3 separate regions of the Homo sapiens genome follow, and regions 2 and 3 are each reported to be linked to region 1. The links are microRNA targets in miRTarBase. Many come from high-throughput screens and were not tested one by one. Region 1 holds a microRNA gene; each other region holds the end of a gene's coding sequence.

Evidence for each region. The annotated mature microRNA hsa-miR-548ay-3p reads CAAAACCGCGAUUACUCUUGCA and lies in region 1 at 886-907, shown strand. An mRNA with a match to its seed (bases 2 to 7 or 8) in the 3' UTR can be bound and repressed. Matches are read on the target gene's strand: a 7mer-m8 pairs with bases 2 to 8, a 7mer-A1 pairs with bases 2 to 7 and ends in A, and an 8mer does both.
Region 2: the mRNA of PCGF2 is a reported target of hsa-miR-548ay-3p. Seed matches in the 3' UTR shown: 7mer-A1 at 380-386.
Region 3: the mRNA of RIPPLY3 is a reported target of hsa-miR-548ay-3p. The part of its 3' UTR that is shown has no 7-base or 8-base seed match.

What each region holds. Positions count from the first base shown.
Region 1 is chr3:32,503,864-32,507,211 of GRCh38, reverse strand. MIR548AY (microRNA 548ay) reads left to right here and starts at 823; the gene lies at 823-929.
Region 2 is chr17:38,732,138-38,735,483 of GRCh38, reverse strand. It overlaps PCGF2 (polycomb group ring finger 2), which reads left to right. Exons shown (of 11, transcript NM_007144.3): 11 at 1-1,586. The coding sequence ends at 261. It overlaps CISD3 (CDGSH iron sulfur domain 3), which reads right to left. Exons shown (of 4, transcript NM_001136498.2): 4 at 1-2,208. The coding sequence ends at 2,029. Among named protein-coding and RNA genes, the nearest start is that of CISD3, 3.5 kb to the right of the region's middle. RefSeq lists an enhancer at 34-561.
Region 3 is chr21:37,017,817-37,020,816 of GRCh38, reverse strand. It overlaps RIPPLY3 (ripply transcriptional repressor 3), which reads right to left. Exons shown (of 4, transcript NM_018962.3): 4 at 1,155-2,943. The coding sequence ends at 2,610. Among named protein-coding and RNA genes, the nearest start is that of RIPPLY3, 13 kb to the right of the region's middle.

The DNA of each region.
Region 1 (3,348 bases):
CTTCATTACCCAACAATAATGGAAAGGCCCAGTTCCTTAGCTTGATTTTCAAAGCCTTCCAAAATTTGATCTCGAGCTTATATTCCTTAACTACTCTGTCCTTTCCTGCTCCCTTCATTCACTGTGCCTATGCACACTTTCTTTGCCTTCCTTCATACCACCCTACTGCCTGAATACTTTCTGCCCTGTATCTGCATGTCCAAACCGAAGTATAGTTTAACCCCATCTTGAAGCTCCACTGTAGTGATCCTTTAAACTGAAAGTTATTTCTCTCTGCTCCGAATTAGCAACATATTTAATTTGTATCTCTTCTATAACACATATCTCTTTCTATTTTGTAACATAGTTCTTTGTGGACATTACTGTGGTATCATTGTAGGATAGCGTCTATAATCTAACTTTGTATCCACAGTATTGCCTAACTGTGCTAATACCGATAAGAGGGCCAGTGAAAAATTGTTTAGCAGGAACTGCTGAAAAAAATTAAACTCTGAACTGAAAAAGTAGTACTGAGGCAGGATAGGCAGTCAAGGAAGTGCCCATATCCTCAGGACGCAGCAACCATGGTGACCCCAACAGTCAACACAATAAGCCTCAGCATTTGAATTGTGATTGAACTCAGTCGAGCAAAGCTATCTTCAGTAGGAAATTTCTTCTATAGAGAGCATGAGCACTTTGATTTTACCTGTCCTCAAACTGACCTTTTGCTCATTATAATAGCAAAAAACATGCCCTTGGGTGGAGATTTACAATGCTAATGGGACACCTGAGGGAGGAACATGGGTGCACAGCTACTGCACATGTGCAGCCAGAGGACCAACCAGAAGATGCTTACTACTAGGTTGGTGCAAAAGTAATTGTGGTTTTTGCATTTAAAGTAATGGCCAAAACCGCGATTACTCTTGCACGAACCTAACGGTAACACTTCTTCCCACCTCCTTATGAATAATCATGCAAATAATACATGATTAGCAATAACCTCCAGCAATAATCAATGTTGTCTCATCCTTACGAGCAGCCTGCCCTGAATTCTCTCTCTCTCTCAGGGTGTGATGTCTATTTTGTACTTAGCTTTCAAAATTTTTTTTTCTTTTGCAATAAATTATGCTGCATCTCTTTTGCTGTATGTCTCTTGTTTAAATTCTTTTAAACTAAGAAGACAAGAACCAAGGTCTTGCAACAGCCTCCAACACTACCACATTATTTTTTGAATGGCTGAAGTCCCATCAAATTATGTTCCCCAATCGCTCTCTCTTCTTGTGAATGTTTTTCTTTCTTTTTTTAAAAAATTAAATATCTAATTTTAAAGGAGAACAGTGAATATTCTTTAAAACCTAAATTTAGTGTATCTTCCTTTCTTCTTTTTGTCGTATTTTTTTCACCATACGTAAGATTTCTCATTTCAACATAGTGAGTCCCACCATTTGACTATTGCAAGTTGTTTTATTCATTAATGAGGGTGACAGTTTTCTGTGTGAATATGCCCATCAAAAGAGTTTCCTATACAAGTATTTGCTCATGAAGCACTAACATTTTTATTTGGTCTTTCAATTTATGAAGAAAATGTAAGGGATGCCCATTTCTTTACCTGGGTGAAATATTAGTCTCTAAATCCCAGGCACCCCCAAATCAATCAGAGCAAAGAAAATATGGCACGTCTACTGTCTACTACACAATGGCTTTCACTTTTATCACATTATAAAACAGTGTTTCTCTATGTGGATGGATTTCTTCCCAGATTCACATGAAGAGCTTGTTACGAAAGTATATTCCCAAGCCCCATCTACATTCAGAATCTTTGGGGCTAGATCTCCAAGAATCTTCCTTTTTAATTAATCTCACAGATGATTCTTCGCCATGTTGGAGTTTATGAATCACAGGCTAAATTTGTGTCTTCTTCTAAAAATGCAAAGAGAAGCAGAGACCCCTAGAGAATTGCATAAGTGTGCCCTAAACAAACCAAGAGGGTTGACGAAGTCTGTTCATCTTCTCTCTTGTCTCAAAGTATCCTTGTTTCTTTGTAACTTCCTCCCAATACTTTATTTTGAAAATGTTCAAACATACAGAAATGCTGAAATAATTGTACAGTGGACACCCGTATACTTCACCTAAATATTACCATTAATATGTTACTGCAGTTGCTTTATTAGAGATCCTTGTTGTTGTTGTTTTTTTAACAATGATTTTTTTTTTTGAGACGGAGTCTCGGTCTGTCGCCCAGGCTGGAGTGCAATGGTGTGATCTCGGCTCACTGCAAGCTCCGCCTCCCAGGTTCACGCCATTCTCCTGCCTCAGCCTCCCGAGTAGCTGGGACTACAGGCGCCCGCCACCACGCCCGGCTAATTTTTTGTATTTTTAGTAGAGATGGAGTTTCACCGTGTTAGCCAGGATGGTCTTGATTTCCTGACCTCGTGATCCGTCCCCCTCGGCCTCCCAGAGTGTTGGGATTACAGGCGTGAGCTACCGCGACCGGCCTGCTTTTTTTTTTTTTTGAGACGGAGTCTCACTCTGTTGCCCAGACCGGAGTGCCGTAGCGCGATCTCAGCTCACTGCCACCTCCACCTCCCGGGTTTGAGCGATTCTCCTGCCTCAGCCTCCCGAGTAGCTGGGATTACAGGCACACGCCACCACGCCCGGCTAATTTTTGTATTTTTAGTAGAGACGGGGTTTCACCATGTTGGTCAGTCTGGTTTCGAACCCCTGACTTCAGGTGATCCACCTGCCTCGGCCTCCCGAAGTGCTGGAATTACAGGCGTGAGCCACTGCGCCTGGCCTATCACAAATCTTTTATCCATCTCTCTAGTCATCAACTCATCTTAATTTTGGATGAATTTCAAAGGAACTTTTAGACATCAGTAGTGTCTAATTTGGGATGATAGTGACTTGAAGAATAATGGGGCAATGAATCCTTGTAGCCCTGGTGAAAATACAGTGGCCTTCCTTGTTGGACAGAATTGGTGGCATCTTGGCCTTGGGAGGACATTCAGAGTGCATGTAATCAGAGACAGAAGGGTAGTTCTGGCTGGTTGTAGGTGGCCCCTGCAGGGCAGTATCTACTTGTCTCTATTCATTTGAATGGGAGCTTTTGTTTGTTACTGGAAGAAGAAAGGGAGGTTTGGGGCCACGGAGAAGATGTAGCAGCTGATGGCAGCAGAAACCCCTTCTCTCTTCCATGGGTTTTGAGACTCCAATGGAGAGATGAGTTAGAAGCTGACGTTTTCTGGGTTAGCGTTTAGCAGCAAGGTTTCGAGTCAGACTGCTTAGGCCTGCATTCCAGCTGCTCCTGGCTGTTTGACCTTGGATATGATTTCAGCCTCTTGGCCTCAGTTTTCTCATTTGAAAATGAAT
Region 2 (3,346 bases), not on the chromosome of region 1:
GTCAGCGACAAGGCTCCCAGCCCTGCCACCCTGCCAGCCACCTCCTCCTCCCTGCCCAGCCCAGCCACCCCATCCCATGGCTCTCCCAGTTCCCATGGGCCTCCAGCCACCCACCCTACCTCCCCCACTCCCCCTTCGACAGCCAGTGGGGCCACCACAGCTGCCAACGGGGGTAGCTTGAACTGCCTGCAGACACCATCCTCCACCAGCAGGGGGCGCAAGATGACTGTCAACGGCGCTCCCGTGCCCCCCTTAACTTGAGGCCAGGGACCCTCTCCCTTCTTCCAGCCAAGCCTCTCCACTCCTTCCACTTTTTCTGGGCCCTTTTTTCCACCTCTTCTACTTTCCCCAGCTCTTCCCACCTTGGGGGTGGGGGGCGGGTTTTATAAATAAATATATATATATATGTACATAGGAAAAACCAAATATACATACTTATTTTCTATGGACCAACCAGATTAATTTAAATGCCACAGGAAACAAACTTTATGTGTGTGTGTATGTGTGGAAAATGGTGTTCATTTTTTTTGGGGGGGGTCTTGTGTAATTTGCTGTTTTTGGGGGTGCCTGGAGATGAACTGGATGGGCCACTGGAGTCTCAATAAAGCTCTGCACCATCCTCGCTGTTTCCCAAGGCAGGTGGTGTGTTGGGGGCCCCTTCAGACCCAAAGCTTTAGGCATGATTCCAACTGGCTGCATATAGGAGTCAGTTAGAATCGTTTCTTTCTCTCCCCGTTTCTCTCCCCATCTTGGCTGCTGTCCTGCCTCTGACCAGTGGCCGCCCCCCACGTTGTTGAATGTCCAGAAATTGCTAAGAACAGTGCCTTTTACAAATGCAGTTTATCCCTGGTTCTGAGGAGCAAGTGCAGGGTGGAGGTGGCACCTGCATCACCTCCTCCTCTTGCAGTGGAAACTTTGTGCAAAGAATAGATAGTTCTGCCTCTTTTTTTTTTTTTCCTGTGTGTGTGGCCTTTGCATCATTTATCTTGTGGAAAAGAAGATTCAGGCCCTGAGAGGTCTCAGCTCTTGGAGGAGGGCTAAGGCTTTAGCATTGTGAAGCGCTGCACCCCCACCAACCTTACCCTCACCGGGGAACCCTCACTAGCAGGACTGGTGGTGGAGTCTCACCTGGGGCCTAGAGTGGAAGTGGGGGTGGGTTAACCTCACACAAGCACAGATCCCAGACTTTGCCAGAGGCAAACAGCCTTCCAATTGCCCCTCCACCCCCAGCTGAGGCCCGGTCACCTGGTCAGGACAGAGCAACTGCATCTAAAAGCACAAGAAGACAGAAACCTGTAAGCTCTGACCCCACCCCCACCCCTTGAGAGGTCAGCGGACCACCTCCTTAGGGACAGACCCTGGCAGGTCGCTGCCCACCGAGATTTCCTCAAGTGTGCATAGATCTGAGAGGAGTCGGGAGTCGAGACTCGAGATTCCATCATAGCGTAGGTGTGTGGGGTTGGGAGCCCCCTGATGGGCTTGTCTGTGTTTGCACCTTGTCCTGTGTCTGAGGTCCTGTGACTGTACCCTCCTTTGCCCTGGGACATCTGTATCTCTTGGCTTTGTAATAAATGCTGCATACTTTCTGGAGCCTGTAGTTCTTTGGGGTGGAGGGAAGAAGGGAAGGGTGCCTCTCATCTCTGGGTTTAGCCTGGCTTGGGGACCCCATACAGAATGAATCTGAACTGCCCTCTCCTGTGGCTGGTCAGGTGCCCCCAGCCCACAGAGAGGTTAAAATCTGGAGCAGGAGGCAGCACGTGGGCCTCATAGCAGTGACTGCAGGACTACCAGTCTGGTTGGGCAGGCTTGTTTTTGCCATCTTCCCCATCAGCAAACATTGAACCAGGGCCCACTCCCGCCTGCCCCAGACTGGAGACTTTTAGGTTATAAGGAATAATTCTTCCTTCATGAGCCAGCAGTGGGTACCAGAGTCTCTTGGGCTCAGCACCTGTTTCCTTTCCCACAGAAGGGGGTGCCTGTCAGAGGCCTGGAGCCAAGGCCACCTGTGGCTGGACAGCAGCAGCCCCCTCAGAGTGGGGAGCCCACTTCTGCCTTCTGCACGCGCTCACTCCTGTGGGTGCCATCGCAGTACGGGGGCCTCTGAGTGGCCTTGCAGGTACAGAGTGCCACCATGCGGGTCTCTTGGGCCTTGAACTTGAGTGGAGATAGGCCAGTGCGTTGGAAGAAGTGGGAGCCGTCACAGAAGGGCTGGTGGGGGAAAGACAGGAGTCAAAGACCTGACCCCACCTGCTGGGGCAGGGCAGGGCAGGCTGCAGGAGCTCAGGGGGAGTGGAGCACAGTGGTTAGGGTACAGGCTCCAGAGCAAGACTGCCAAGGCTCACTGAGTGACCTCTCTTATCTGTAATGTGGGGGTGATAAGAGTAGAGTTGTATGAGGAAATAAAATATGATCGTGATGCACTTTGCCTATAGTAAGTGTCTGGTAAGTATTTACAGAGTCTTTATAGCATTAGTCTCTGGGACACCCAGAGGGCCAGGACACTAATAGAGTGTGAGTGTGTGTGTGTGTGTGTGTGTGTGTGTGTCTCTGAGTCTCCACTGGATCATGAAATTCATTTACTTCCCATGTTCCTGGGTTAAAACTTCTTTGGGCTGGAGAGTACACTGTGGTAGCAATTTTGTTTGGCTCCAGGGAATAACTGGGCACGTGACAGGGAGTGAAGGTTACAAGGAGGAGGGGATGCCCCATAGCAAACTGGCTGGCTGGCACAGAAGTGTACTCCCCATCCCAGAAGCCGCTCAAGCAGAGACTGGGTAATGGAAACAGGCCCAGAAAGGTGACATGCCTTGCTAGCTGAAGGCAGAGCTGGTGCCAAGGCCTTTTTTTTTGACAGGGTCTCACTCTGTTGCCCAGGCTGGAGTGCAGTGATGCAAACACGGCTCACTGTAGCCTCAACCTCCTGGGGTCAAGCGGTCCTCCTTCCTCAGCCTCCAGTATGGCTGGGAACACAGGCCTGCCTCCATGCTAGTCTTTGGTGGGGGTAGAGGCATTTGTAGAAGCGGGGTCTCAACTTTGTTGCCCAGACTGTTCTTGAACTCCTGGACTCAAAAGAGCCTCCTGCCTTGGCCTCGCAAAGTGCTGGGATTACAGGTGAGCCACCTCGCCTGGCTGAACCAAGGCCTCTTGACATTGGAGTTAGGGTGGGATGGAAAGGAGATGAGAGAAGCGTGCAAATAGAAACCAGCAACTTGTCTTAGAGGGCTTGAGGTGCATGGACCTAAGTGGGACTCAAGGACCCTGGGCTGCTGACACCATGCCACATAGCTTGAAGGAATACCAGTCAGAGCTCTGCTCAGGAAGGAAAGGGGCCAGGGAGGCAAACAAT
Region 3 (3,000 bases), not on the chromosome of region 1:
GGATAAGACTTCTAGCATTTTTCTGTGAAAAGCCAGCAAAATTCGGGGTCATCTTAAATCCTTTCTGAAATTGACCCAGGTTTAATTGTTTTTAAGTCTGAAAAGATGTACTTTAAACAAGTAAAAGAAACAATAAAATATAATTTTTAATTTTTAAATGAAAAAGTAGCCAAATTTGTTCAAAACACAAAAAAGTAAACATTTTAAAAGAAAAAAAGGCCCAGAAAAGAAAAACACACAAAAAAGGAATTTTTCAAAAGACTGAAGCCATAAAACACAATTGATGTTTGTTATCTTTAGACAAAGGAAAGGGGGAAGAGCAGAATGTGATTTTACTTTGCAATGTGTACTTTCTATAGTGTTTGGATTGCTGAAAGTATTTCCATTCATTACTCCTACTTTTTAATATATTGGGCCTAGTATGGTGGCTCATTCCTGTAGTTCCAGTGCTTTAGGAGGCCTAGGTAAGACGATAGCTTGAGGCCAGGAGTTCAAGAGCAGCCTTGGCAATGTATTGAGAACCTGTATCTACAAAAAAAAAATTTTTTTTAATTAACTGGGTGGCTGGGCATGGTGGTTCATGCCTGTAATCCCAGCACCTTGGGAGGCCGAGGTGGGTGGATCACCTGAGGTCAGGAGTTTGAGACCAGCCTGGCCAACATGGTAAAACCCCATCTCTACTAAAAATACAAAATTAGCCAGGCTTGGTGGCACGTGCCGGTAATCCCAGCTACTCAGGAGGCCAAGGTAGGAGAATCGACTGAACCTGTGAGGCAGAGGTTGCAGTGAGCCGAGATTGTGCCATTGCACTCCAGCCTGGGTGACAAGAGCGAAACTCCGTCTCAAAAAACATTGCTGGGCATGGTGGCTCACGCCTGTTGTCCTACCTACTGCGAAGGCTGAGGTGGGAGGATTCCTTGAGCCCAGGAGTTCAAGGCTGCAGTGAGCTATTATTGAGCCACTGCACTCCAGCCAGGGACGGAGCAAGACCCTGTGTCTAAAATTTTAAAAAATAAAACAGAATACTGAAATAAAATAATAGGTTATAATTTTAAAAGAATTATTTTTAAAAACCATGAAAAATGAAAAAACCTTAAAGCAGAAACTATTTAATTCTAAAAATGTCTTAAGCAAAAAAGGGTGATTATCAAACATTCTTTCAAAATATTTATTTCAAGTAGAAATTGATATAATGTACTATATACAGGAAGACACCACATGTAAGATAAGTAAGTCAAAAAGTTTCAGGAATACACGTTTATCAAAATATTAAAAACTCAAAATAATTTTACATCAGATACTTTAATTAAAAATAGTGTTCATGGGTTAAGGGTAGGGTTAAAAAAATAAAAAATTAAAAAAGTAGTGTTCATCTATTAAAATACCAGGCCCCAAACAGTCACCAACTAAGAAGAGAGACGGTTCTACTCCCTATAAATTCATACACACAGGCCTCCTTATACAGTCATCACATACATTTTTATCTAATTGTCTCCTAAAAATCCCTATCTTTCTGTTACTCTTTTCTTTCTTTTTTTTTTTTTTTTTTTTTGAGACGGAGTTTCGCTCTTGTTGCCCAGGCTGGAATGCAATGGTGCGATCTCGACTCACGGCAACCTCCGCCTCCCGGGTTCTAGCCATTCTCCTGCCTCAGCCTCCCGAGTAGCTGGGATTACAGGCATGAGCCATCACGCCTGGCTAATTTTGTATTTTTAGTAGAGACAGAGTTTCTCCACGTTGGTCAGGCTGGTCCTTTTTGTTACTCTTATGGGAATTATTCGGCGGGTTAAAAAAATTTTTTTTTAATAAATACATTTTTTTTTGGCCGGGCTCAGTGGCTCACGCCTGTAATCCCAGCACTTTGGGAGGCCAAGGCGGGTGGATCACCTGAGGTCAGGAGTTCAAAGCCAGCCTGACCAACATGGTGAAACCGAGTCTCTACTAAAAATACAAAAAATTAGCCAGGCGTGGTAGCTCATGCCTGTAATCCCAGCTACTTGGGAGGCTGAGACAGGAGAATCACTTGAACCCAAGAAGTGGAGGTTGCAGTGAGCCGAGATTGTGTCACTGCACTCCAGCCTGGGAGACAAGAGCAAAACTCCGTCACAAAACCAAACCAAACCTTTTTTTCTTTTTTTTCCAAAATGCTACTAAGCAACTACATCTACCCTTGGATGATAGATTAAAATTGGAGTTTAATATCTGAATTATTTTTACAAAAGCAGAAATAGCTAAATAATGAGTCTCAGGTTAAGTAGGAGGTGGAGTGGGCGACTATCTAGGAAGAATTCATCACCTGATCAGTGAGTGACAATGCAGAAGGAGCTTTGAAAACTGGCTCTATGAGATAACAACTCTGTTGACATAGACCTTCTCTTTCTCCTAGAATCCTTTCTCAAAGGCATGCATGAGTGCACCAAAAACGAATTGCCAGGGGAAAGAAAAGTAAAAGCTGACTTTCTGTCATGAGTAGTGTGCAGGCCAGGGGCTGCCCGAGAAGCCTCTAGCCTCTGCACACTCAGCAGGGATGCGTAGTGTCCTGGCTCGGGTGTCCCCAAGAGAACGTGAGGGGCAGGTCCCAGAGCAGGGCCCAGGAGACAGAGACTGATTCATTTGGATGAGGAGCACTTGCCACCCCTTGAGGAGACACCTTGAGGGAGCGGACCCTCCCCCCAGTGGTCACCCCCTCCTGAGGATCGCTGCCCTTGGTTGATGCCCTGGTCTCTGCCCTTTCCCCCTGGGCCATTTTCCTGCCGACCTCCCACCTCCTGGGGCAGAAGATGGAGGGGTGGGGGTCCTTCCTCTGGCTCTTCAGCTTCGGAAGCAGACTCAGTAGACTCATCGTCGTAGAAGTCAATCGTGGCTTGCACTGGGAAACTGGCCAGTACTTGCTCCCCGGAACTCCGCAGGTATTCTTGACGCTTTGACATGGGTAAATAGACTCTAATATTTAAGAAACAAATATACCATTAATCAACCTGAACCTCGTCCTAAATTGCT